Linked DNA regions of Homo sapiens. The protein of the gene in region 1 interacts with the protein of each later gene in a biochemical or structural test. Each region holds a gene or a part of one and is shown on either strand. Other genes may lie near its edges.

Region 1 (3,431 bases):
CTGTCTGACACGAGCGTGGCAAAGGCGGCATCCTTAGCACGGATGCTCCAAGAGAGGGCAGAACCCAGGCGATTGTTGCGGACGGCTTTCATGGCTAAGATCTTACAAATGCTGCGAACTTTGCAGGGGAAAAGAAAAGGTAAACGGCTTTCACTCCACAAATCACTCCATTCCTGAGCCCTGTGGGGACCGGAGTGGCCTCACAGCCTCACTCCACCGCAGAGCCACTCTTTGGGCTCTAAATGCAGCTGGATCGGCAGAGCTGGAAACTCGGCTGATTAACAGTGTCTGGGATCTGCTAAGAGTGTAAGTGCCCATCACGGCAAGACTGGCTCTATGAGTGTGTGTGGCTTCAAGGGGAGCAAAACGTTGCTCCCTACATGTCAGCTCTTCTATTTTTTTTCTCCCTACGTGTTTCTCCCTACGTGTCAGCTCTTCTATTACCTCTCCAGATGCCTCAAATCACATCTTCCTGTGGATCGTGAATACCATATGCTTTCAGAAATGGTCGTGAACATGCAACTGCCTCTCTGCAGGGTAATAACTCATGTTTACATTACTCAACAGTGAGGGGAGAAATGAAGGGGCAGACTTGGTCATCCTCATTCCACTCTCTCTGCTTTTCTGGAGCCACCTCCAGCACTGCTTCCCCATTGAGCCAGGCTGAGCTAGCAATAGCAACCCACCTGGACAGGGAAACAGCGCCAACCCCAGCCCTGACCTCGTGGAATCAAGTGTGTGAGAAAAGGGGCGGCTCAGGCCTTTCCAGATGGCGTGTAGATTTTGTCTGGGTTCCAGTGGATCCCTAGCTTTCCTGTCCCTCCCAAGTAATTATCCCATCTCTTAGTTTACCTCTTGGCGTCCACAGCCCCACGTCTCCAGTGTGGCTCGTGAGGAGGAGGATGGCTGGGGTAGGCATAAAGTGTGACCTCAGGATCCCCTGACTCCTGCGTCCCACAGACAGTAGGCTGGGAGCAGGGCCAGCTCACCTTGTTCAGTCATCTGCCGCTGCTCACAGATCCGCAGCACCTTCAGGGCTTTCTGCTCGGTGTTCAGAGGTATCCGCTCAATGTGCAGCTCCAGGGAGACTCGGCCCAGCTCGGGGCAGTAATCAAAGTAATCGACCCCCAGCTGCCACAGGCTGCAAAGGTTCGAGGAGGACAGACATGAGGTGCTGCCTCATGGCTCCGAGGACTGGCACCTACAGCTCCCTTTCACTGACCCTTCCGAAGCCTTCAAGGAGCCAACTGGGAGAGAACAGTCCAAGCTCCAATGGCACCCGCATGCTGAAGAGCACCCGCATAGCCCACACCCATGGGGTCCTTCCTACCTGGGATGAGCAAACAGTCCCGAGGCGTACTCCAGCAGGAGGAACTCTCTCATGTTGGAACCGAAACTGGAATAAAACATAACAAAAGACCAAGACTCCTGGCCTGCCCTGTTCAGGGCCCCCTTAGCCCAACCTCCCTTTCAGGCATTCAGTTCACACCACCCTCGGGGGCCTGGTGGTAAGAAGAGGAGGATCGGTGCCTCCCGGCCACTTACTAGAGGTTGTGTGACTGGAGGAGCTTGCAGTGGTCCAGCAGGTCTGTCAGGTGGGCCACAAACCACCAGTTGCTCAGGGCGATGCTGCAGATTCAGACACCAAGGCAAGAAGGAAAATCAGGGCACAGGCCGCGTCCCACAAGAGTGGGGGTGAGCAAGAAACCCCACATGTCCTGTCCCTCAAAGAGATGGGGCCGGGCGTGATGATAGCTCATGCCCGTGATCCCAGTACTTTGGGAGGCCAAGGCAGGCAGATCACCTGAGTCCAGGAATTTAAGACCAGCCTGGGCAACATGGCAAAACCCCATCTCTACAAATACAAAAATTAGCCAGGCATGGTGGCACACACCTGTAATCCCAGCTACTCGAGAAGCTGGGGTGGGAGTATTGCTTGAGCCTGGGAAGCAGAGGCTGCAATCGGCCGAGATCACGCCACCGCACTCCAACTTGGGTGAGAGAGCACAACCATATCTCAAAAAAAAAAAAATCGCTCAGAAAGTAGTTGAGGTGGAGTCTTGCTCTGTCACCCAGACGGGAGTGCACTGGTGAGATCTCGACTCACTGCAACCTCTGCCTCCCAGGTTCAAGCAATTCTCATGCCTCAGCCTCTTCAGTAGCTGAGATTACAGGCATGCGCTACCACACCCAGCTAGAAAGTAGCTTTTGAATGTTCTCACCACACGCACACCAAAAGGGTCACTATGTGAGGTGACAGATGTCACTAGCTTAATTTCACAATGTATACATCTATCAAAACATGTTGTTGGCCGGGCGCGGTAGCTCACACCTGTAATCCCAGCACTTTGGGAGGCCGAGGTGGGAGGATCATGAGGTCAGGAAATCAAGACCATCTTCGCTAACACGGTGAAACCCCATCTCTACAAAAAGTACAAAAAATTAGCCGGATGTTGTGGCGGACACCTGTAGTCCCAGCTACTCTGGAGGCTGAGGCAGGAGAATGGCGTGAACCTAGGAGGCGGGGCTTGCAGTGAGACGAGATCGCGCCATTGTACTCCGGCCTGGGCGACAAAGTGAGACTCCATCTCAAAAAAAAAAAAAAACAAAAAACATGTTGTACACCTTGGCCGGGTGCAGTGGCTCATTCCTGTAATCCCAACACTGAAAGGCCGAGGCGGGTGGATCACTTGAGCTCAGGAGTTCAAGACCAGCCTGGCCAAAATGGCAAAACCCCATCTCCACCAAAAATACAAAAGTTAGCTGGGCGTGGTGGCGTGTGCCTGTGGTCCCAGCTACTCGGAAGGCTGAGGCAGAAGATCGCTTGAGCCCAGGAGGCAGAGGCTGCAGTGAGCTGAGATCGTGCCACTGCACTCCAGCCTGAGTGACAGGGCAAGACTCTGTCTCCAAAAAAAAAAAAAAAATTTTGTACACCTTAAATACATACTACTTTGTTAATCACACCTCAATAAAGCTGGGGAAAAAAATGGGAGGGAGTGGGCTGGGCCAGGGGAAAGGACACCTCAGCTTCCCAAAACAGCTGTTGCTACCCAGATTTCTAGCTGATGGTTATGTCGAAACCATTGGAGAAGCCAGTGAAAAGGCTATAGGGGACCCAGGCTAAGGGAGCCAAAGCCTTAGCCTGCACGAAAGCCACCAACAACTGGAAGGAAGGGCTGAGACAGTGCCCGGTGTCTTCCCAAAGGATCCAGCAGCCTCCAAGGCTGGAAGGCAGCAAGCACTGAGAGCAGAGAACTAACAACACAACTCAAGTGACGGAGACCAGACATAGTGCTGCACAAAGCCACCACGGTCTCTCTACAGGGCCCAGCAGGCCTGAACCACACAGTTAGGTCTTAGATCACACACGCACACACTCCCACTCTCACTCTGTCTCTCTCTCACTCTGAAGGATTCTGAGTGAGCAGCCG
Region 2 (8,222 bases), on another chromosome or scaffold:
TGTTGTTTGTTTTTTTTTTTGTAGATATGGGGTTTCACTTTATTGCCCAGGCTGGTCTCAAACTCCTGGGCTCAAGTGATCCTCAGGAAGTGCTGAGATTACAGGTATGAGTTATGAGCCACCACATCAACCACAGGTTTAATTCTTATATCCAAAACTGTAGTTAGAATCCTTAGATATTTATCTCTGTGTGTGTTTTTTTTTTTTTTTTTTTTTTGGAGACAGGGTCTCTCTCTGTTGCCTAGGCCAGAGTGCAGTAGTGGTGTGATCATAGCTCATTGCAGCCTTGAACTCCTGGACTTACACGATTCTCCCAAAGTGCTGGGCATAGCCATTATGCCCATGCCCAGCCTTATGTACTTATTTTCTTAGGATAATTTTTTAGAAGTAGAATTGCTAGGCCAAACATTTTGCATAGCGCATTGACAGATTTTTCTACACAAAAATAATACCAGTTTAAGCCAGGCACATTGGCACATGCCTGTAGTTCCAGGCTCCTCCTACTCAGGAGCCTGAGGCAGGAAGATTGCTTGAGCCTGAGAGTTTGAGGCCAGCTTAGGCAACATAACCTCTTTAAAAAGTTAATAATACTAGTTTAATCCAGGTGAGTGGCATGCACCAGCTTCTCAGGAGGCCGAGGCAGGAGGATTGCTTGAGTCCAGGAATTCAAGGCTGTAGTGCATTATGATTGCACCTATGCACTCCAGCCTGGACAATATAGTGAGACCCCACTCCCTGAAAAGTGATAAAAATCATACCATTTTATATGCCATAGTGAAGTGTGCAAGAATGCCCTTTTCCCATGCAAATGCAGGCTGTCATATTTGTTAATAAATGTTGTGCTCCTCAATTTATTGTTGCATCACATCATTTTTTTTAACATGAACAATAGATTTATAAGCTTTTTTTTTTCTTTTGATTCTGGTGGAGATGATTTAGCCGGACAGAAATTTTTCATTTTCTCACTCTGTCTTTGATATCATGCCAGAATGGATTATCCTTTTTTTTTTTTTTTTTTGAGACAGAGTCTTGTTCTGTCGCCCAGGCTGGAGTGCAGTGGCACAATCGCGGTTCACTGAAACCTCTGCCTCCTGGGTTCAAGCCATTCTTCTGCCTCAGCCTCCCTAGTAGCTGGGACTAAAGGCATTTGCCACCATGCCTAGCTAATTTTTGTATTTTTAGTAGGAATGGGGTTTCACCATGTTGGCCAGGCTGGTCTCAAACTCCTGACCTCAGGTTATCTGCCTGCCTTGGCATCCCAAAGTGCTGGGATTACAGGTGTGAGCCACTGCGCCCGGCCCTATATATTTTTTTAAAAATGGGGTCTCTCTCACCCAGGTTGGAATGCAGTGGCATGATCACAGCCCACTGCAGCCTCAGCCTTGCCTCCCTGGCTCAATCAGTCCTCCCACCTCAGCCTCCCGAGTAGCTGAGGCTACAGGCACGCACCCCTACTACACCCGGCTAATTTTTTATTTTTTGTAGAGACAGGGTCTCAATATGTTGCCCAGGCTGGAGTGCAGTGGCATGGTACCTCACTTAAGCCTCAACCTCCTGGGGTCAAGTGATCCTCTTGCCTTGCCCTTCTGAGTAGCTGGGACTACAGGTATATGCCACTACACCTAGCTAATTTTTTTTATTATTAGATTTCTATAGAAATTATGATTCCATAAAAGATTTTGAGGAAATGATGGCCGGGGGCGGTGGCTTATGCTTGTAATCCCAGCACTTTGGGAGGCCGAGGCAGGTGGATCACCTGAGGTCAGGAGTTCGAGACCAGCCTGACCAACATGGAGAAAGCCCGTCGCTACTAAAAATACAAAATTAGCCGGGCGTGGTGGCACATGCCTGTAATCCCAGCTACTAGGGAGGCAGAGGCAGGACAGTCACTTGAACCTGGGAGGCAGAGGTTGTGGTGAGCCAAGATCGCACCATTGCACTCCAGCCTGGGCAACAAGAGTGAAACTCCGTCTCAAAAAAAAAACAAAACAAAACAGATTTTGAGGAAATGAGGAAGACTGGTATCTTTCAGAATTGAAAGTGATTTTGGAATATATAGAATTTCTTTGGGGCTGGGCACGGTAGTTCATGCCTGTAATTTTAGCACTTTGGGAGTCCAAGGCAAACAGATCTCTTGAGCCCAGTTGTTTGAGACCAGCCTGGGCAACATGGAGAAACCCCATGTCTGTTAAAAATACAAAAGTTAGCCAGGTATGGTGATACATACCTGTAGTCCTAGCTACTCAGGAGGCTGAGATAGGCGGATTGCTTAAGCCTTGGAGGTCAAGGCTGCAGTGAGCCATGACCATGCCATTCTGCACTCCAGCCTGGGCGCCAGAGCAAGACCCTGTTTCAAAAAGAGAGAGAGAATTTCTTTGAGTTGAATTATGTAGAAGTTTGTCACTGACCTATGTTCCTAAAGTATGAAGCATACATATGTGGGCTAAGAAATAGTTTTTCTTGATAAATAATCAACAAATAAAAAATAAAAAGCCCTCCATCTGAGACTGGATCCAAATTCTTGGAACATTTCCAAATTTTGGTTTGGTAGAAGTCAGTTGCTATTTCTGTGATAAAGACCAGAAGTATTCAGAATCTTGGCATTAACCAATATTGGATATTGCCTCTTAGAAATTCATTTTTATATTTCATTAGGATCTTTCTCAGTTTTTCCAATAATATAATCTTCATATATTAATGACACAGGAATTGAAAAATAAGACAACTTACCAATTTAAAAAAAAACTTTTCCGTAAAAGACAGTCATTCCTAGCTGGGCACACACCTATAATTCCAGCACTTTTGGGAGGCTGAGGCAGGAGGATTGCTTGACGCCAGGAGTAGAAGACCAAGGTAGACAACATAGCAAAACCCTGTCTCTATTTAAAAAAATAAAAATAAAATAAAATAAGCTTTTTCATAAAGTAATAGGGTTAAATGTTTTAGCAATGATTTTCTTTTCTTTTTTTTGAGACGTAGTTTTGCTCTTTTTGCCCAGGCTGGAGTGCAGTGATGCAATCTCAGCTCACTGCAACCTTGCCTCCCGGGTTCAAGCAATTCTCCTACCTCACCCTCCCAAGTAGCTGGGATTACAGGCACCTGCCACCACGCCGGGCTAATTTTTTGTATTTTTGGTAGAGATGGGGTTTCACCATGTTGGTTAGCTGGTCTTGAACTCCAGATCTCAGGTGATCCACTCACCTCGGCCTCCCAAAGTGGTAGGATTACAGGCATGAGCCACTGCGCCTGGACATTTTTTTTTTTCCTTGAGACAGAGTCTCACTCTTGTTGCCCAGACTGGAGTGCAATGGTGTGATGTTGGCTCATTGCAACCTCTGCCTCCCGGGTTCAAGCGATTCTCCTGCCTCAGCCTCCTGAGTAGCTGGGATTATAGGCACCCACCACCATGCCTGGCTAATTTTTAGTATTTTTAGTAGAGACGGAGTTTCACCACGTTGGCCAGGCTGGTCTTGAACTCCTGACCTCAAGTGATCCACCCACCTTGGCCTCCCAAAGTGTTAGGATTACAAGCATGAGCCACTGTGCCTGGCTACTATTTTCATTTATTTCCTTGCCCAGTACGCAAATTTAGTTGGCTTCTTTTTCCTTTCTTTTCTTTTTTTTTTTTTTTTCTCAGACAGTGTCTCACTTTGTCGCCCAGGCTGGAGTGCAGTGGTGCGAGCTCGGCTCACTGCAACCTCCGCCTCCCAGGTTCAAGTGATTTTCCTGTCTCAGCCTCCTAAGTAGCTGGGACTACAAGCACGCGCCACCACGCCTGGCTAACTTTTGTATTTTTAGTAGAGATGGTGTTTCACCATGTTGCCCAGGCTGGTCCTGACCTCAGGTGATCCACCCGCCTTAGCCTCCTAAAGTGTTCTTTTTCCTTTCTATGTGTTATAGCCATTGGAAAGTTACATTATGTCTTTTCTTTAATTCTGAAGCCTTTAATTTTTAGGACAGACTTGAGGCTCGAAGGTATGTGATGGAGGATAATGGAAGATGATGCCTAGAGATGGGGGTTTAATGTTGTTTGTTCAGCGAATCTGCACAGGAATGAGCTTATTGATTCTTGTCTCTTAGTGTGGGAAGTTCACTTTCACCCATCCAACCCAGAACATCTTTTTACCTGCTCTGAAGATGGATCCCTCTGGCACTGGGATGCTTCCACAGATGTACCTGAAAAGTCGTCACTCTTTCACCAAGGTAAAACTTTTTAATGAATACTGTTATGTGTACTTTTTTTTTTTTTTTTTAAGACAGAGTCTCACTCTATCACCCAGGCTGGAATGCAGTGGCACGATCTCAGCTCACTGCAACCTCCGCCTCCTGGGTTCAAGCGATTCTCGTGCCTCAGCCTCCCGAGTAGCCAGGACTACTAGTCATGCACCACCGTGCCCGGCTAATTTTTTTGTATTTTTAGTGGAGATGGGGTTTCACCATGTTGGCCAGGCTGGTCTCGAACTCCTGACCTCAAATGATCCGCCTGCCTCAGCCTCCCAAAGTGCTGAGATTACAGGAGTGAGCCACCACACCTGGCCTTTTTTTTGAGACAGAGTCTTACTCAGTCACCCAGAATGGAGTGTAGTGGTGCAGTCTCAGCTCACTGCAACCTCTGCCTCTCAGGTTCAAGCTTTTCTTGTGCCTTAGCTTCCCTAGTAGCTGGGATTACAGGTGTGTGCCACCACAACTGGCTAATTTTTTTGTATTTTTAGTAGAGATGGGGTTTTGCTATGTTGGCCAGGCTGGTCTCAAACTCCTGGCCTCAAGTGATCTGACCACCTCAGCCTCCCCAAAGTGCTGGGATTACAGGCATGAGCCACTGTGCCCAGCCTGTTATGTGTAATTTTATCATACTTTTATTTTGTTTTTTTTTTGTTTGAGACAGCGTCTCACTCTGACATGCAGGCTGGACTGCAGTGGCATGATCACAGCTCGCTACATCCTCGCCCTCCTGGGCTTAAGTGGTCCTCCTGCCCCAGCCTCCCAAATAGCTAAGACCAGAGATGCTTGCAACCACAACCAGCTAATTTTTTTTTTTTAATTTTTTTGTAGAGATGAGCTCTCACTATGCTGCCCAGGCTGCTCTCAAACTCCTGAGCTCAAGCAATCTTCCTGCCTGGGCCTCCCGAGGTATTGCAATTATAAGCATGAGCTGGCTGTACCCAGCCATTTTATACTTTTAAATACCAAATTAGACATCCTCGTATTTTTTACTTAATGGCAAAACATTTTTATTCTCTTGCCTCAGAGTAAATTTGAGTATCACAGGGCTTGAAATCTGACTGTCAAGTTACTTACTACTGTATGGCTGATGGCTAGAAATGCTGTAAGCTGGCTCACTTGAGACAGCCAAGGTTCTCCTTTGTGAGTGCCATTAACCTGGACCCTCATGCCATAGCATAGACAGTGGCAAATCTTTCATATTGCATTGCCAAGTTTGTGTGAATGGCAAGAAAAAAGTTGATATTTGATGTAACTGAGGGTACTGGTTAAATGGCCTGATCTCAGGCCGGGTGTGGTGGCTCATGCCTGTAATCCCAGCACTTTGGGAGGCCAAGGCAGGTGGATCACCTGAGTTTGGGAGTTCGAGACCAGCCTGACCAACATGGAGAAACCCCGTCTCTACTAAAAATACAAAATTAGCCGGGTGTGGTGGCTCATGCCTGTAATCCTAGCTATTCAGGAGGCTGAGGCAGGAGAATTGCTTTTACCCAGGAGACAGAGGTTTCAGCGAGCCGAGATTGCACCATTGCACTCCAGCCTGGATAGCAAAAGCGAAACTCCGTCTCAAAAAAAAAAAAAAAGGGCGTGCTTTCCTCATTACAGTCAGTTGTAGGTTATGGTCAGCCAAAGACCATGCACTTGTAATCGGGGTTTATGTGTTTTTGCATTTTCCAAGTTTCCTGTTTTTGAGGGTTTGTCTGTGGCTCCAAAGTTCTTTTGCTTATTCATTTATTCAGAAATATTTACTGAATGCCTACCATGTGGTAGGCATTCTTCTAGGTGTTAGGACGTGTAACAGTGAGCAGAACGAAATGTCGAAACGCATAGAGCAAATATTCTAATAGTTAAAAAAATAGATAATGTATCAGTAAGAGTCCAATTAGAATGTCAGAAACTACCTTAGATGTAGAAGGAATTGGTCTCACATGTGTTAGAAGGGCTGGGAAAACAAAAGGTAATAGGAGGGGTGCTGGGAGAACAAATAGGAAGAAAAGGGAAAACCCAGAAATAGTAATTGTTAGTACCCCTGCTACTTGACTGTTGAAAATGCTGTAAAAGTTTGTTCTGAATTAGGAGAAAAGGCGCTCCCTCAACCAGGCTGAAACTACCACCAGTGTTGTTGCCAGAAACCTGGAGCAGGAAGGAGCTGCTTCTCCCTTCCGCCTTCCAGTCACCCACCATTAATACCTGCTATTGGCAAGGCCCATCTGGATGGCAGATGGCAAAGCAGCCTGGAAAGTGGAGTTTACCAACTTCTACCTCCTACAGTATATAGTGGAGCACAGCAAAGTGGAAAAGGAGGCCGGGCGCGGTGGCTCACACCTGTAATCCCAGCAATTTGGGAGGCCGAGGTGGGCAGATGACCTGAGGCCAGGAGTTCAAGACCAGCCTGGTCCAACATGGTGAAACCCTGTGTCTACTAAAAATACAAAAATTAGCTGAACGTGGTGGTGGGTGCCTGTAATCCCAGCTACTCTGGAGGCTGAGGCAGGAGAATTGCTTGAACCCGGGAGTTGGAGGTTGCAGTGAGCCAAGGTCACGCCACTGCACTCCAGCCTGGGCAACAGAGCAAGACTCCATCTCAAAAAAAAAGAAAAAGGAAAATAACATGGCCAAATACACTGCTAATTACCATGAAGAAGAATACAGCAGAGTAGGAGGATAAAGAATAAAGACAGGGGTGAGGGGAGCTACTCTAGTGAGAGTCAGAAGAGGCCACTTGGCAGAAGGAACATTTGAGCAGAGACTTAAGAGAAGTGAAGGCATAAGTGACATGAAAGCATTCCAGGCAGAGGAAACAGCAAATGCTGAGGGCCTGAGACAGGCAGAGAACTGCAAGGACACCACGGTTGGAGCTCAGGCAGCAGGGTACAGTGGTGGGAGATAAGGACTGGTGGCTGAGGAGCCCTGGGACTTTGTAGCCCATGATAAGGACTTTAGACTTATGGGAGGGGGAGGAGAAAAGTGGAAAACAGGGAGATGAGGAAGGAGTCTTATCACAGTGGCTTGAATAATGTGTTAATCTTTACAGCGTCCAAGAGCAATGTAAAATGTAGGGGCAGTAAAAGATAAACAGAAAAACTAAGGGGAAAAAAATTCTAAAACTTCTTCAGAAAAATTCTGGAGCGGAGAGCATGTGTGGAGCATGCATGCATGTCCATGCTATAACTTCATCTACAGAGAAACAAACAGTTTCATCTAAGGATTAACTAAGTATGTACTTCGTTTTTACTTCCTTCCTCCCCTAACCGCACAGTCTTGAACTTGCAAGTTTACTTTTAAGGAACCTTGGTTAGACTGGAAATAAAACTTTATTCTGTGTCTACTATTGCAAGGCACAGTATTAGACACTGTGAAAAAGTAAAACATATAAAATATGCATCCTGCTCTTAAGACATATTTAGTCATGGACAGAGGCATGGATAGTTCAATTAGGATATAAGAATTGTTATAAAGTAGTAAATTAATGGTACATACAAGTGCTGAGGGTTCAAGGAAAGAGAAAAACATGAAGTAGAGGTTGTCTTCAAAGTTTTCTTAGAGAAGGAAGTTCAGCCATATTTTAAAGGATCAGCAAGATTTTAAATGTACTAATCTTTAAGCTTCAAGACATAGGGACTTGGCACAGAGCACTTAGCACAGAGCCTGGCACATAGTAGGTACTCAGTCATTTGTTGAGTGAATTAAATTTGTACTTATTTGATATGACAGCAAGTTGAGAGGAAAGTAAGTTGCGAATAATGACTAAAATTGAAATATACTGCCTCTGCCTCACTTTATTCTATAGTAAGTACAGTGCGCTGTTAGAGATAAAACCTTATAATCTAGTAGTGTTCTAATCTGCTTGTAAGAACATTTATCTAAAAAGCATAAGAATGAAAGATTTGAGGTAAGGCGATTATATTTTAAGAAATATAGTAACAAATATATATTTAGAAATATATTTCTAGAAATGTTCATCTAGAAATATGTCTAGAAATTCTTTCTCATGATCATTT
Region 3 (6,887 bases), on another chromosome or scaffold:
CCCAGAATAAACGAGACTTGAGGATTCCACTTTAGAAAGAGAGATGGTTGGCATTTTTTTTTTTTTTGAGATGGAGTCTGGCTCTGTTGCCCAGGCTGGAGTGCAGTGGCCCGATCTCGGCTCACTGCAAGCTCCGCCTCCTGGATTCATGCCATTCTCCTGCCTCAGCCTCCCGGATGGCTGGCAATTTTTAAATGGCAGTTTCTTTGGCAGCAATAAAATCCTGCTGTGGCTGTTATTCCTATGATGCAAGACTGTCATTGCATTAGTCACTCTGTCCTCCAGGCTCTCAGCACTTTTCACAGATGCCTCTGTTCCTGCTCTGCACAGCGCACTGTGACTGTGCACAGGACCTTCTCTACCCCTCCCACTCCACAGCTGGCCCTGGACTTGGAGGTGTAAAGGACACTGGCATTAACATCTGTCTTTCTGTTTCCAACCCAGTCTGGCATAGGTAGACCCTCCGGGATGCTTGTCATATTGAATTCCATGATTGAAAATAAATGGATAGTTTTCCAGATTCTATATATGAAGTCACTATATACCACATGTCTTAATCGGTTTTTGTGCTTCTTAACAAACAACCCCTAAAACTCAGTGGCTTATCACAGCAAACACAGACTTCTTGCTCATGTTATATGTGGCTGCAGCTCCCTGTGTCTTCTCATTCACCAGGGCGCACGGGCTGACGGGTGTGATCTGGAATGGGCCTTCCTGTGGCTGAGCAAGAGGCTCCGCTTGGATGAGGCAGATGTCACTTCTGCTCACATTCCAGCAGCAGAGCCAGTGGTGGAGGGCGTGGGGTGTGTGGCCTGTAGGGCGCACTGCAAGTCACACCACAAGGGCAGGTGTGTGTAATCACACAGGGGAAGAAGTGAAAAGTTGTGAACACAACACAATCTTCCACACCACAGTGTAAAAAAACAGCCAGTTGTTTTTAAATCTTTTATCAACATAGTTATAGCATTGATTTATTTTCCAAATCATAGTTGTTAAAAACAGTATTTACATTTCATCACCATCAACTTAACATTTTATGCATTCATTAGGATCATACAAATATATGAAGGTGAAAGTTCTGCTCTGTCCCCACTTCTTTCTGAAACCTTCTTTAGCCATGTGGCCTGAAAGTAGAGCCATAGTCCAGCTTGGGAGTCTAGTTCCCAAGTTGCCTGGTTCTAGAAGCCCAGTGTTTCTTGCTTGCATCAGATCAGAAACACACTGGGCAACATAAGAACATTCTTAACTTGGCTCGACTAAGAGGAAAGTCTTTGCTTACTTCAGGGAGCTTCTCCACCTTCCATTCTTTACCAATAGGGTTTAAAAGCTTTGATTAGAAGCCAACTTGATTTAGGAGTTCCCACTGGCAAAATAGGGAACAATATGAGCATCAAGGACATCTGCGAAGCACTGAAACACTCGAATGTGATTAAACGCATGACTTCATAATGATACAAAACAAAACACAAAAGGCTTTTGGCAGCAAGCCTGAGAGAATGGAGATCCAGCTGAGATGACAGCGATGGAGCGTATACTGTGATTCAAACGACATCATTACTTAGATGCTGCATGCACATAGGCTAATGTGCCCACAGATCACACACTTCCAACTCCTGCCAATCAACAACTATTGGGTTGACTCAGCAGTCTCCCAAACATACCACCTGCTCAAAATTCTTAAGCTCAAAGCTAGAATTATCTCTGTGACTAATACAGCATTTTCACGTTTGACATGATAGTAACTCAAACTAACTCTTTACCACATTTACAAGTTGCAGTTTTCAGCTTTAATTTTATTTTTACTATTTAAAAAAAGTCTGAACTCTATGCCTGTATTCAAAAATGAGGAACTGGAAGGTAGTTTGGAAAATACTGTTTTCCAACCCAGCTGGAGTCTCTCTCCTCTCAGCCTTCCTGCCTGGTAACGTAGACACCAAGATTCACACTGTGAATCACACATCTGTGAAGCCAGACGTGTGATTTCCAAAGCAGAGATCTGTCATTTCTGTCTCTAGGCTCCTTCTTTGTCCTGAAGACTGGCTTCAGGGGCTCTGCCAATTGACTTTCCTTTTCCACGACCATCGAGGAGTCCTTGTGTAGTCACTTTCACATTCTTTCCTGGTCTCACTCCTGGACCTCCACACACTGGTTTTTGGAGTGGGGCAATCCTACAGCCAAGAGCTATGTGAAAAAGGCTGTGGGGAAAAGAGAAGAGTGAGGGGAGTGGCAAGGCAGGGAAAAGCAAGCACAAAACAAACCAGCTCAGATCCAGACAAGAAGCTTTACTGGGTTCTGATGCAGCCTTCCTGGCTCTCTCCACTTAGTTGATTTCGGAAATAGTTCTGCAGTGGTTCCACACGATCCCCGTCCTTTGCTCCTGGTGAAGGAACTCATCATTCTCCACCCCCTTCTCATAATCACTACCTCCTGGAGAGATCAAGCAAGAGCCTATATATATTGCATATACATATATTAGCATATCATAGATAATGCATCTTTTATAAACAAAAATTTTCTGAATTTTTAGACAGGGGGATGTGGCCTAAGAAGCATCTGAACAATGGAGCATGATATTTCATAGATTTCAAATGTAAGGTGCATGGGTGCCATAGATAAACTGTAATAAAGCAAAAATATGTCATGCACTTATGCAAAAGAGAATCATCGGACTCCACCAAAACTCCCAGGTTATTGCAGTTCCCAAACTCTCCCTGACCTGGTGAACCCTTCAAGGTTAAATACACGTGGCAGATGGGGCTAAGGACCAGTATCATCTCCTGGCTGAATGCGTGAGCCCTTTGCTCACCTTTGTCTTTGTCCAGGCTCAGCCATGCTCATGTCTCCCTCCTTCTCCTCTCAGCCCTGACCCCACTATCCCTCACTCCCATTCATCTGTGCCTGTCACATTCTCTTCTTCACCTCCAGCTGGCCCTTGATTTCAAGACATTGACAGAATCAGAGATTGAGTGAAGAAATTATGAAGACTAGAAAAAGAGGATTAGCACAAGGTAATGAGGCATTTTTCAGGAGCTGAGATGAGCTTTCTGGAGAGTCAAAGTCTCTACCCACAGTTTTTCTGGATTATTCCCTGAGCACATGTTGGATATGCATTGGGTGACATAGTCTGTATTAGTACACACAGCCCTGAGGTTCCTGGGCACCTGCTTTACAGGTTTCTATTGTTCAACAAACCCTTGAAGTTTGTTGTTATATACAGATTGTTATCTCCCTTTATAAACAACAATCAAACTGCTCCTCGTTTTATAAACCAGCCGAGACTTCCTGCTCCCCAGTGGAAGGCGTGTTTGTTGAAGTCACTCCATCCACTGTCTCCCTGTAGAAAACTGGACATTGTTTGCAGAAGCGCTTGGTGATGTGCTTTCGGAAGAACACCGAGAGATACCTTCTGAACTTCTCCCCAACGAAGGCATAGATGATGGGATTGATGCAGCAGTGAGTCATCCCAAGAGTCTCTGTCACCTGCGTGGCTTGGTCCAGTTGACTGGTGCTTTCACAGTTACTCAGGCCGAAGAATTCCTGGAAGGTGTTCAGGAGAATGACAATATTATAGGGAGTCCAGAAGAGAAAGTAAACAATCATGATGGTGAAGATGACTCTCACTGCCCTATGCCTCTTCTTCTCGTTTCGACACCGAAGCAGGGTTTTCAGGATTCCCGAGTAGCAGATGACCATGATGAGCAGCGGCAGGACCAGCCCCAAAATGTTCCTCATTATTGTGTGGAAATTATTCCATCCTCGTGGAAAATAAGGGCCACAGACATAAACAGAATCTTCTTTCTGGCATTTAGTAAAGATGATTCCTGGGACAGAAGCAAACACAGCCACCAACCAGGTGATCACACTTGTCACCACCCCAAAGGTGACCGTCCTGGCTTTTAAAGCAAACACAGCATGGACAATAGCCAGGTATCTATCGATTGTCAGGAGGATGATGAAGAAGATTCCGCCAAAATAACCGATGTGATACAGCCCTGTGAATAATTTGCACATTGCATTCCCAAAGACCCACTCATTTGCAGCAGAGTGAGCCCACAATGGGAGAGTAATAAGAAAAAGCAGATCAGAGATGGCCAGGTTGAGCAGGTAAATGTCAGTCAAGCACTTCAGCTTTTTGCAGTTTATTAAGATGAGGACGACCAGCATGTTGCCCACAAAACCAAAGATGAACACCAGCGAGTAGAGCGGAGGCAGGAGTTGGGCCCCAATTTGCTTCACGTCAAATTTATGACAGGGAGCACCGTAATCATAATCAAAAAAGGTGGTGACTTCTTCACCGCTCTCGTTGGTATTTCTGATAAACCGAGAACGAGATGTGGACAGCATGTTGTGGATGTACTGGGGAAATGCGTCCTTGTTCAATCCACTTTCTCTGTTCTGTAAACAAAGAACAAAATGATGACCACACAACACAAACACCGCAATCCATGATCTTCCAAATAGTCTGGCACCACATAAGCAACTTCCCAGTCTTTGCCCTCTCCCTTGCAGCCATCTCCCTGAAAGCATGTGTGCCAGTTCCTGATTTGCCTTTCATTCCTAGTGGCAGACATCAATGATTTACCCAACAGCCATTTTCCGACACCCTTTATCTTCCCCAGCAAACCAGATTCTCATTTTCAGGCTAAAAGCGCTGGGCGTTTGTTTTCTCTGGCTCCTTTGCAGGTGGTGCATAGGTCTGTGACTCATTGCTGGACCATAATATGAAAAGGGAGTCTGCTGGGGGCTTCTGAGAAAGCTCTTCTTCCCTGATAAGACAGACACAAGAGAACCCTCCACCTGCCCCTCCTGCTCTGGCAGCATGCCTAGTGAGGGCATGGTGCCATGAATGGAAGACCTAGAGAACCATGAGAAGCCAGGCAGAATCCTATTATCACTGAGTCCTAAACCCACCCTTGAACTATTCACCTTCTGCCTTCTTTTTTTTTTTTTTTTGGAGACGGAGTCTCGCTGTGTCTCCAGGCTATAGTGCAGTGGCCATGATCTCAGCTCACTGCAACCTCCACCTCCTGGGTTCAAGTGATTCTCCTGCCTCAGCCTCCTGAGTAGATGGGACTATAGGCGTGCACCACCATGCCCCGCTAATTTTTGTATTTTTAGTAGAGATGGGGATTCACCATGTTGGCCAGGATGGTCTCGGTCTCTTGACCTCCTGATGCACCCGCCTTGGCCTCTCAAATTGCTGGGAGAAAAACAAGCCCCTGTTTTAAAGCCATTATGAACTGCATTTTCTGTTCTCTGAAGTCAAAAACGTTCTAACTGATGATTCTCTCAGCTTTCTGCCTCCATCATCCTGCCAAAACTTCTCTTGTTAAGATTGCAGTGACAACCCAATTTTTCAAATGCCCTGGTTTTATTCCAATTCCACCCTCTTCAAGTATTTGATCCTTCTGCTAACTTCCTCCATTTACAATTCTTTTTGGCTTCCAGATGGGAGGGGCTGTGCTACCGCTTTTTATTCATGTTCTTTGCTGGCATCTCCTCCCCGTGCCCACACCTTAAGATTCCCCAGGCACCACACTTAGCTCTCACCTCTTTAATTTTTTGCCTCTTTATCCTTGCTACAAAGTTCTTCCTGAATTGTATTGTCTAAACTCATGGTTCCTACTCCCTTCTATGCTACTGTTTTCTAAAGCTCTGTCTTCAAGCTCCAGCTTTCCCCTAAGCCTTAGAGTTGAATTTCCCATTGCCTGATGCATATCTCCCCATGCATGTATTCACTGCATCAACACTTATTGAACACCTACTATGAACCATACTCAGTTTTAGGCACTGAAGTGAGCAAAGTGGGTATCATGCAGGGACCTCAAATTCAACCCACCCCAAATGGGGCACTGCTGAAAACTCCTTCCGATTGTGGATTCCTCCATTGCCTAAGAAGCAAAATTGGGCATTGCCCTGGGTTGCTTCTCCTTCTGAAAATTAGGAGCCAGTTTTTGGAGCCAAACAAACCTGGATTTGAATCCTTATAGGCAGTGTAATCTGGGGCCAATTACTCCTTCAAGTGCCGATTTCTTTATGCATAAAATATTAACTATGCTGAGTTGCTGTGAAGATCAATGGAGTAAGGACTTAGGACAGCATCTGACACAGAGAAATGCCCTGTATTATTATCATGTCATTTGAGTTCCACCTCATAGATGCCTCTCAGATTCATCCCCTCTGCACTGCTTTCAACTGTCACTTTCTTGCTTCACACACTCCTCACTCCTGGCTTTGTTGTAGTCTTTCCTTTGCTCATGGCTCATCTCAAGCCATGTTCCCTCTCAACCTATCTTCTCTTAAGTTGAAATTGAATAGTCACTCTTAGCTTAAAACCTCCAGTAGCCCTATGACTTATATGTGGTGGGCTTCAAAGATAATGTCCAGACTGCCCAGCACAACATCTTTTCTGAGTTTGCCTCTTTTCAGCCTCACCTCCAGTCCCTTCTCCAATCCCAAATCCTGTGCTTCAGTCACAGCCATCTTCTCTTCATTTTCCCTAAACTCACCATTTCCTTCATGCTTCAGTGGTTTTGCAGGTCCTTGCCCCTCTGCCCAAAATGATTGGTGAGCTTCTATTCACCCTTCAATACCTCCTGCTCAAATCCCCCTTCTCTGTGAAGCCTAATCTGTATCCTCTGTCATATTACTCTTATCACATAACACTGCATGCATCTAGATAAGCACTTATTATGTTATCTGCTACACACAGCATGTTCCTCAAGATCAAGGACTGGATTATGCTTCTATTTTCAGCTCTTATGATAGTACCTGGCTAAAGGAGGCACCAATAAATGTTCACTGAATGAGTACATAAAACTCTTTATAATAAGAACTATAAGCCCTAACATCATCAGGACTTGATTCTCAAGAATTTTTTTTCTGGC
Region 4 (8,222 bases), on another chromosome or scaffold:
GTTTTTTTGAGACAGTTTCACTCTTGTGCTGGAGTGCAATGGCGCAATCTTGGCTCACTGAAACCTCCGCCTCCTGAGTTCAAGTGATTCTCGTGCTTCAGCCTCCTGAGTAGCTGGGATTACAAGCGTGCACCACTACGCCTGGCTAATTTTGTATTTTTAGTAGAGACAGGGTTTCACCATGTTGGTCAGGCTGGTCTTGAACTCCTGACCTCAGGTGATCCACCCGCCTCTGCCTCCCAAAGTGCTAGGATTACAGGTGTGAGCCACTGCGCCCAGCAGGAATTGAGTTAAGTGATAATAAAAGGAAACTATGCAAAGGCTATTTCATCCTTGCAATTCTATTTCTTTATCTATAAATACAGAATAAGAGGATAATGAAGGCAGTGGTAGATCAGAGTTTTCTACTAGGTTCTTCTAAGATTGAATATCCTGGACAGAACGGCAGCACCTAACCCCCTGCATGTAGGAGACTGGGTGGAGACATCTCCCCATCCCACCTTTCTACAGCATTCTTCACTTGACCTTCTTTTCATCCCAACATTCTTCCTAAAATCTCTACCAAGCTGGTACACACCTCAAGGTTCTCTCCTTGATCTTTCTCACCCATCCAATCACCCTAAGCAATCTCATCCACATCCTTGCTTCTACTGTGTGGTCTGCAGCAGCCTGGGAGCTTCTGGGAAATCCAGAATCTCAGCCCCCTCCTGGGGCCTACACAATCAGAATATGCTTTTTTTTTTTTTTTGAGACAGAGTCTGGCTCTGTCGCCCAGGCTGGAGTGCAGTGGTGTGATCTCGGCTCACTGCAAGCTCCGCCTCCCAGGTTCATGCCATTCTCCTGCCTCAGCCTCCGGAGTAGCTGGGACTACAGGGGCCTGCCACCACGCCCGGCCAATGTTTTTTGTTTTTTTTGTATTTTTTAGTAGAGACAGGGTTTCACCATGTTAGCCAGGATGGTCTCGATCTTCTGACCTCGTGATCTGCCCACCTCGGCCTCCCAAAGTGCTGGGATTCAGGCGTGAGCCACTGCGCCCGGCCAGAATATGCATGGTTTCTACACCCATGGTTTCAGTACCTATAAACCAATAATTCCTAAATCTATCCCCTGCAATTCAGGGGATAGATTCTGGCCTTCTACCAAAGGCCAGAAATAGGACAGGTGGAGCTAAGAGCACACATGCTGCAGCCAGAACGTGTTTGAATCCAGGCTGTAACGACCTTCAGCAAGTTCTCCGTAAAGTGGGAGGAACACCCGTACTGTGGCAGAGAGATTCTAAGTGCCCCCATGACCCGCACCTCCTGGTGGTCCCGCCCTTGTGGAGGCTCCTCCCCATGAGTGTGAGTGGGGCCCGTGGCTTGTTTTCTACCCAGGGGACGGAACATGGCAAGGTGGTGGGACAACACCCGTGTGACTACAACACACAAGCCTGTGACGCCTGCCTCATGAGAAGACTCTCCTGCTTTCAGGCCTTGCAGAAGCAGCTGCCATGCTGTGAGGACACAAGGGAGGGTCTCGTGGCAGGAACACGAGTGCTGCCAACAACCAGGTGAGCTCCGAAGTGGAGTCTTTCCCAGTCTGGCCTGACTCTTGACCCACAGACATTGAAATACCGAATCTGTACTGTTTCAGCCACTGAGTGATAATGCTGTCATGCAGCAATAGACAACTAATCTCAGCTATTCTATCCATCTGCCTTTACACATCCCCACCTGGATGTTCCAAACGCACCTCAAACATATGTCTGAAATAAATTGTGCTTACCACATTCACTCCTCTTTGCTCAGTCCCCATCTCAACAAGTGGCACTACCATCAGCTAGGTCAGAAACCAAGACTCACGTGACCTACAGCTGGTGCCTCCTAGACAAGTCTCCCCGGTCCCTCTTCATCCCACGCCACAGTGCATGTCCTCATTCCACATCATAGTGGGCTACTGCATTCATCCCTGAGTTCCTGCTCCCAGTCCACACAGCTGCCAAAGTCATCTCCCTAAAAGGTAAATACAACCTTGTGACTCTACTGGACCCTGCAAAAGTCCAAATGCTGCCAGGATAGAGATCAGACTTGGCAAGCACCACTCTCCAAAATCTGCCTGGCCTGTTGGCCTGCCCCTCCCCTGTCTCTCTCCTGCATTAGCCTCCCCACCCACCGCCTCGACCCCACGCCCTTGTCTTTGCTCCTGCCTCCTCTCTGCTTGCAGAACACCCTCTGTCTTTCAAGATTCATGCTCAAACATCATCAGCTGAAACTTCTCACCCTACCAGGCAGGTATGTGCTGCCATCTCTAGCAGGTGACCATCCTCATCCATATCCTAGGCGCTGTAAGCTCCTTCAGCTCTTAGTACAGTCCATGCTGCTTATGAAATGTTGAAAAAGTGAGATTTTTTTTTTCTTACCTGAGGCAAGCTATATATTGTAATTAATTAAGGTGGCTGGGCACGGTGGCTCACGCCTGTAATCCCAACACTTTGGGAGGCCGAAGCAGGCAGATCACCTGAGGTCGACAGTTCGAGACCAGCCTGACCAACATGGAGAAACCCCATCTCTACTAAAACTACAAAATTAGCTGGGTGTGGTGGCACATGCCTGTGATCCCAGCTACTTGGGAGGCTGAGGCAGGAGAACTTCTTGAACCCAGGGGGCGGAGGTTACGGTGAGCCGAGATCACACCATTGCACTCCAACCTGGGCAACAAGAGTGAAACTTCATCTCAAAAAAAAAAATAAAATAAAAATAAAAATAATTAAGGTTATCTAAAGCTTCTCCTATCAGAAGGAGCCAAATAAGATCCTCAATGAGAGTGTAAATAAAGAGAATGAACAAAAAAGACTTTGTTTCTGGTCCTGACTCTGGACCTTAGACTAGTCATTCACTCTGTTGGTCTCAGTTTTCTCATTTGTAAAACAGTGTTAATAAAAGCTGTCTCCTCTACTTACAAGGTGGTTGGTAGGATTCAAACTTCATAACACACATAAAAATGCCCGGTAACCTATATAAACACATGGCACTTCTATTATCACTATCAATCCTAGATCTGTTTTAGTATTTTCACTCACAAATAAAAACAAATATATCCAACACTGGTTAATTTGGCAAATGTCTCCTGTCTACTAAATGGTGATACTACTTAGAAAAAGATAAACAGGCCGGGCGTGGTGGCTCACACCTGTAATCCCAGCACTTTGGAAGGCTGAGGTGGGCGGATCACAAGATCAAGAGATGGAGACCATCCTGGCCAAAATGGTGAAACCCCATCTCTACTAAAAATACAAAAGTTAGCTGGGCATGGTGGCGGGTGCCTGTAGTCCCAGCTACCGGGGAGGCTGAGGCAGGAGAATCGCTTGAACCCGGGAGGCAAAGGTTGAAGCGAGCCAAGGTTGCGCCACTGCACTCTAGCCTGGAAACAGAGTGAGACTCCATCTCAAAGAAAAAAAAAGAGAGAAAAAGATAAACAGGTATTAATAACGATACTACATAGTCCACTATCACATCTCCTCCACGTTCAATCTAAATAAGAACCTTCAAACAATGCTTACCTCAAAGAACCAGCAACAGAACTCCAAAAAGTGCTGAACTTAATAGGTTTGATTACTTCCCAAGTCAATAGCACACACCCCCACCTGCAGACACTCTTTCCCCAACACCACTTCCCCTCGTTTTTGATGCTGAAAATGCCAGACACTTGCTGTCTCACTCTCTTGCAGCTAAGGCATGGCTGGATGACCAAACTCCAGCCGCCAGCACCTGATAAGAAGCCTGCTAAGATACTTCTAGGAAAGGTGTTTTTTTCTAGAATACCCTTCTTTGTATTAGCATGTAAAACCTGACATTGTGCAGCTCTTTTGTGATCATAAGAGGGAGCTATCACCAGTGTACTAAGCATGACAGCAAGAAAAAAGTGGAAAATATTTAGGTAGGTCCTTGATGTCATCATTGAGCAACTGAGTCACTACCTAACCCCAGAACTGCTCCACCCTCAGGCTCCTTGTCACATGACATAATACAGGGAATCCCCCAGTCTAGATTTATTCTGTTAGCTAAGAGACTAGACTCAAATGCAATCTCAGATTATTTTTAACATTGGATTATTTAGGTAATTTAGAAATACTTAGGTAATTTCTAGGCCGGCCGTGGTGGCTCACACCTGTAATCCCAGCACTTTGGGAGGCCGAGGTGGGTGGATCACCTGAGGTCAGGAGTTCAAGACAAGCCTGGCCAACATGGTGAAACCCCGTCTCTACTAAAAATACAAAAATTAGCCAGGCGTGGTGGCACGCACTTGTAATCCCAGCTATTCAGGAGGCTAAGGCAGGAGAATCACTTGAACTCGGGAGGTAGAGGTTGCAGTGAGCTGAGATTGCATCACTGCACTCCAGCTTGGGTGACAGAGTGAGACTCTCAAAAAAAAAAAAAATAGGTAATTTCTATTTGCCTGTATTTTCTTTCAGAACTAACTGCAAGTTATTTATCTTTTTACTCAAATCTTACTTATGAAATATTTTCTTTTCCTATGTTTTAGAAAAAAATCTTTTTTTGACACTGCTGGAGTGAAGTGGTGCAATTTTGATTTACCGCAGCCTCGACCTCCCAGGCTCAGGTGATCATCCCACCTCAGTCTCCCAAGTAGCTGGAACTACAGGCATGCGCCATCATCCCCACAGCTAATTTTTGTACTTTTTGTAGCGAAAGGGTTTCACCATGTTGTCCAGGCTGGTCTTGAATTCCTAGACTCAAGTGATCCACCCACCTCAGCCTCCCAAAGTGCTGAGATGGCAGGCATAAGTCACCTCGCGTGGCCAATGATACACCTTTTACGTTTTTGGGCTTATGTCTACATATTCATTCTGCTCAGCTCAGGTTGAAATTTACTTTAACAAGCCCAACACTTCATGAAGCCTCTATAAAATGTGCTATTAATAGGGCTCATAGTTTTTACAGCTTAAAACTCCATGAAAATCTCTAAGACCATTTCCCATCACTGCAGCACATTCTACTGGACAGCACTGTTGAAGACTGAGCCTCTCTGCAGACACCAACAATCTAGGAAGGTAGAAGGTGTAAGATCCCCTTGGTAACCCAGATGGTAACATTTGGAATTGCAGAGCCCACGGGAGTAACACTAGTTCCTTCTCTACTGCTGGCCCTGCCTAAGATCTGACTATTAGACTCAAGAATTTTGTCTAGTACCTGCGAAGCCCATCTGATCACCTGACAAGTGCTCTCTTCTCCTGTAAGACTGAGTAGTGTGCCTCTGAGACACTGCTTTTGGCTCTCAGAAGCTTTGCAGACACTTGTATCTCGGCATGACCAAAATTAACTTACCTTCACATGCTGCCACACTCTACCCAAATCTGCCTTGTTCCCAGAGTTCCTTATCTCAAGAAATTACACACATTGAAATTACACACTGAACTCTTAAGCCAGAACCTTGGAAATCATCTTAACACCTTCCCCCTTCTTCCTCAGTTCAGTTCTCAAATCCAATCAATCACCAGATCCTATTGATACCACTTCTCAATTATTCTCAAGTTGTCCACTTATCTCCATGCCACTGCTACTACTATCCCAAAGCCACGTACTCTCCCACCTGGACTGTCTTCATAGCATCCTAGCCGTGAATCCACCATGTTTCCCTCCAAAACACTTGTCACACCTATAGAAGATCCATCTGATCCCATTATTCCCTATTCACATCACCTGTAAGATAAAACTGAAACAATGGACATTACTTCTTATAGATACAAGTCTTGCCTATTTCTCTCCACACTCATTTTTGCCCAGCATGTTCCAACAACAGTATAAATATACTCCCTCTCTCTTGCTCACGGCCTTACCACATGCAGTTTTCTCCACCAGGAGTGCTTCTGCCCTCTTTGTCTGGCTAACTTCTACTCACCCTATAGGTCATCTTCTAGGTGAACCTTCCTAGCCCCTAAACCAGATTAGGTTCCCCAGGTATAAGCTCTTTAGCACCCTAATTCTTCCACTTCATAAGATTCATCACCCTTTTTTACTATTATTTTTTGTTTCACTGCAAGATGGTACATCATACTGGGAGATCAATTACCTTCTCCTCTTTTTTTTTTTGAGGCAGGGTTTCGCTCTTGTTGCCCAGCCTGGAGTGCAATAGCGCAATCTCAGCTCACTGCAACCTCCGCCTCCTGGGTTCAAGCGATTCTCCTGCCTCAGCCTCCCGAGTAGCTGGGATTACAGGCACCTGCCACCACACCCAGCTAATTTTTTGTACTTTTAGTAGAGACGGGGTTTCACCATATTGGCCAGGCTGGTCTACTTTCTCCTCTTTATCACTCATGCCTGTGCTATCACAGCCTAGCACAGAACTTGGTATATTATAGTAAATCAGCAAACATATGATGAATGACACATAATTCTGTAAATGAATAAAGAAATAACATTTTAAAAAATTAAATGCAATTCTGAACAATTATTAAAACCAAAGCAGGACTGACCTGGTGTTTTCATTATATTCAAAAATCTGAACCTTGGCCATTGCGTTGGGGCTACTGTCATCACTTCCTACGGCGATCATGGGGGAATGAGCACGAGAGCTAGAAACGGGGAGAAAGAACATTTTAGATAACAAAAGAAATACACATTTCATTCACAGAATGAACACACTGGAGGCAAGCAGACAACCAGCTTACAGTTAGCCTGTCACACTACTAGTGAATCTAGGTCTCTGCCACATAGCTGACATGGCCACACTGCAAGTATGCACCTGAGAATGTCACACATGGGAACTGAAGATTCCATCCTTATGAACTGTTTTTAGCATATTCTTATGGCTCAGATAGAAAGGAGCTCTTTGCCTGAAAAAAGCTTTCAAGCATTCAACATATTTTTAAAAGATACTTAAGAGGTCTTAGTAATTTTTCCTCCTGAAATTTTTGGTCATTAACTATGAAACAAAAAGTAACCCTACTGTGACTAACTTCATGACAAAAAGATCTTAAGTGCTTTGACAAAAAGAAGAAACACTGCGGCAGGGTGGCTCATGCCTGTAATCCCAGCATTTTGAGAGACTCAGGAGAGAGGATCATTTGAGGCCAGGAGTTCAAGAAGAACCTGGGCCACATAATAAGACTCTATCTCTACAAAAAAAAAATTTGTTTAATTAGCCTGGTGTGGTGGCATGTGCCGTTTGTCTCAGCTACTCAGGAGCTGAGGCAGGAGGATCACTTGCGCCCAGGAGTTGGAGGCTGCAGTGAGCTATGATCGTGCCACTGCACTCTAGCCTGGGCAACAGAGTGAGAGTCTCTTTCAGAAAAAAAGAAAAGAAGAAGAAAAAACAGATGGACAGGGGAAAAGTGGAAAAGACTACCCCTGCAGAAGTCACGATCCCCACGTCATTCCCCTCCCTAGACTCATCTGTGGTCAACCTCATTTTGAAAAAGGCAAAAGATGAGCAATGAAAGAATGGCTCTCCTGAACTATAAGCTGAATGACTTTTTAATTTCTATGCCTAATTAACATAATTTCCTTTGCCTCCCTCATCCAGATTAATTAATATCTCTGTAAACCTGGCACCCTTGCTTAACCTTTAGCCTCAGTATTGTGCACTACTAACCTCTTAAAGCTAAAAACAAAATGTGGTAACTGACAAAAAAAATTAGTTCTTTATTACTAAAGCTTCAGGTAATTAGATCAAATTATCTAATTAAGAAAAGTACCAGGCAAACTACAAAATGCTACAGTAATAAAATAAAATTATAAGTTATTTATAATAATTTTTGGCCATTCAAATAGATGTAAATTCCACAGCAATTTCTGTGTCTCACAAACTTCCTTTTGCGTTTTTTTCCTGTTTTTTTGAGACAGAGCCTTGCTCTGTCACCCAGGCTGGAGTGCAGTGGCGATCTCTGATCACTGCAACCTCCACCTCCTGGGTTCAAGTGATTCTCCTGTCTCAGTCTCCTGAGTAGCTGGGATTACAGGCGTGAACCACCACACCTGGCCACAAACTTCCTTTTTCAGTGTTCTACAAATACTTGGTTTTGATTTTTTTTTTTTTTTTGAGATGGAGTCTCACTCTGTCGCCAGGCTGGAGTGCAGTGGCATGATCTTGGTTTACTGCAACCTCCATCTCCTGGATTCAAGCGATTCTCGTGCCTCGGCCTCCCAAGTGGCTGGGATTACAGGCACGCGCCACCACGCCCAGCTAATTTTTGTATCTTTAGTAAAGATGAGGTTTCACCATGT

The links.
Region 2: the proteins of NUP85 (region 1) and NUP43 form a complex in vitro, tested with the Homo sapiens proteins (2 studies listed by BioGRID).
Region 3: the proteins of NUP85 (region 1) and CCR2 interact in a biophysical measurement, tested with the Homo sapiens proteins (one study listed by IntAct).
Region 4: the proteins of NUP85 (region 1) and SEH1L form a complex in vitro, tested with the Homo sapiens proteins (one study listed by IntAct).

The regions. Positions count from the first base shown.
Region 1 is NC_000017.11:75,229,538-75,232,968, reverse strand, and holds part of NUP85 (nuclear pore complex protein Nup85), read right to left. Parts: intron 1,630-3,431; coding exon 1,546-1,629; intron 1,397-1,545; coding exon 1,331-1,396; intron 1,142-1,330; coding exon 990-1,141; intron 119-989; coding exon 1-118. UniProt on the Homo sapiens protein: Essential component of the nuclear pore complex (NPC) that seems to be required for NPC assembly and maintenance. As part of the NPC Nup107-160 subcomplex plays a role in RNA export and in tethering NUP96/Nup98 and NUP153 to the nucleus.
Region 2 is NC_000006.12:149,727,594-149,735,815, reverse strand, and holds part of NUP43 (nucleoporin Nup43), read left to right. Parts: intron 1-4,080; coding exon 4,081-4,203; intron 4,204-5,052; coding exon of another isoform or gene 5,053-5,183; exon of another isoform or gene 5,184-6,297; coding exon of another isoform or gene 6,298-6,326; exon of another isoform or gene 6,327-7,255; coding exon of another isoform or gene 7,256-7,296; exon of another isoform or gene 7,297-7,336; intron 7,337-7,337; coding exon of another isoform or gene 7,338-7,426; exon of another isoform or gene 7,427-8,222. UniProt on the Homo sapiens protein: Component of the Nup107-160 subcomplex of the nuclear pore complex (NPC). The Nup107-160 subcomplex is required for the assembly of a functional NPC.
Region 3 is NC_000003.12:46,354,985-46,361,871, reverse strand, and holds the end of CCR2 (C-C chemokine receptor type 2), read right to left. Parts: intron 4,396-6,887; 5' UTR 4,345-4,395; coding exon 3,262-4,344; 3' UTR 2,196-3,261; coding exon of another isoform or gene 2,012-2,195; 3' UTR 932-2,011; downstream 1-931. UniProt on the Homo sapiens protein: Key functional receptor for CCL2 but can also bind CCL7, and CCL12. Also transduces signaling mediated by CCL13.
Region 4 is NC_000018.10:12,969,502-12,977,723, reverse strand, and holds part of SEH1L (nucleoporin SEH1), read right to left. Parts: intron 6,572-8,222; coding exon 6,473-6,571; intron 1,992-6,472; exon of another isoform or gene 1,842-1,991; intron 1-1,841. UniProt on the Homo sapiens protein: Component of the Nup107-160 subcomplex of the nuclear pore complex (NPC). The Nup107-160 subcomplex is required for the assembly of a functional NPC.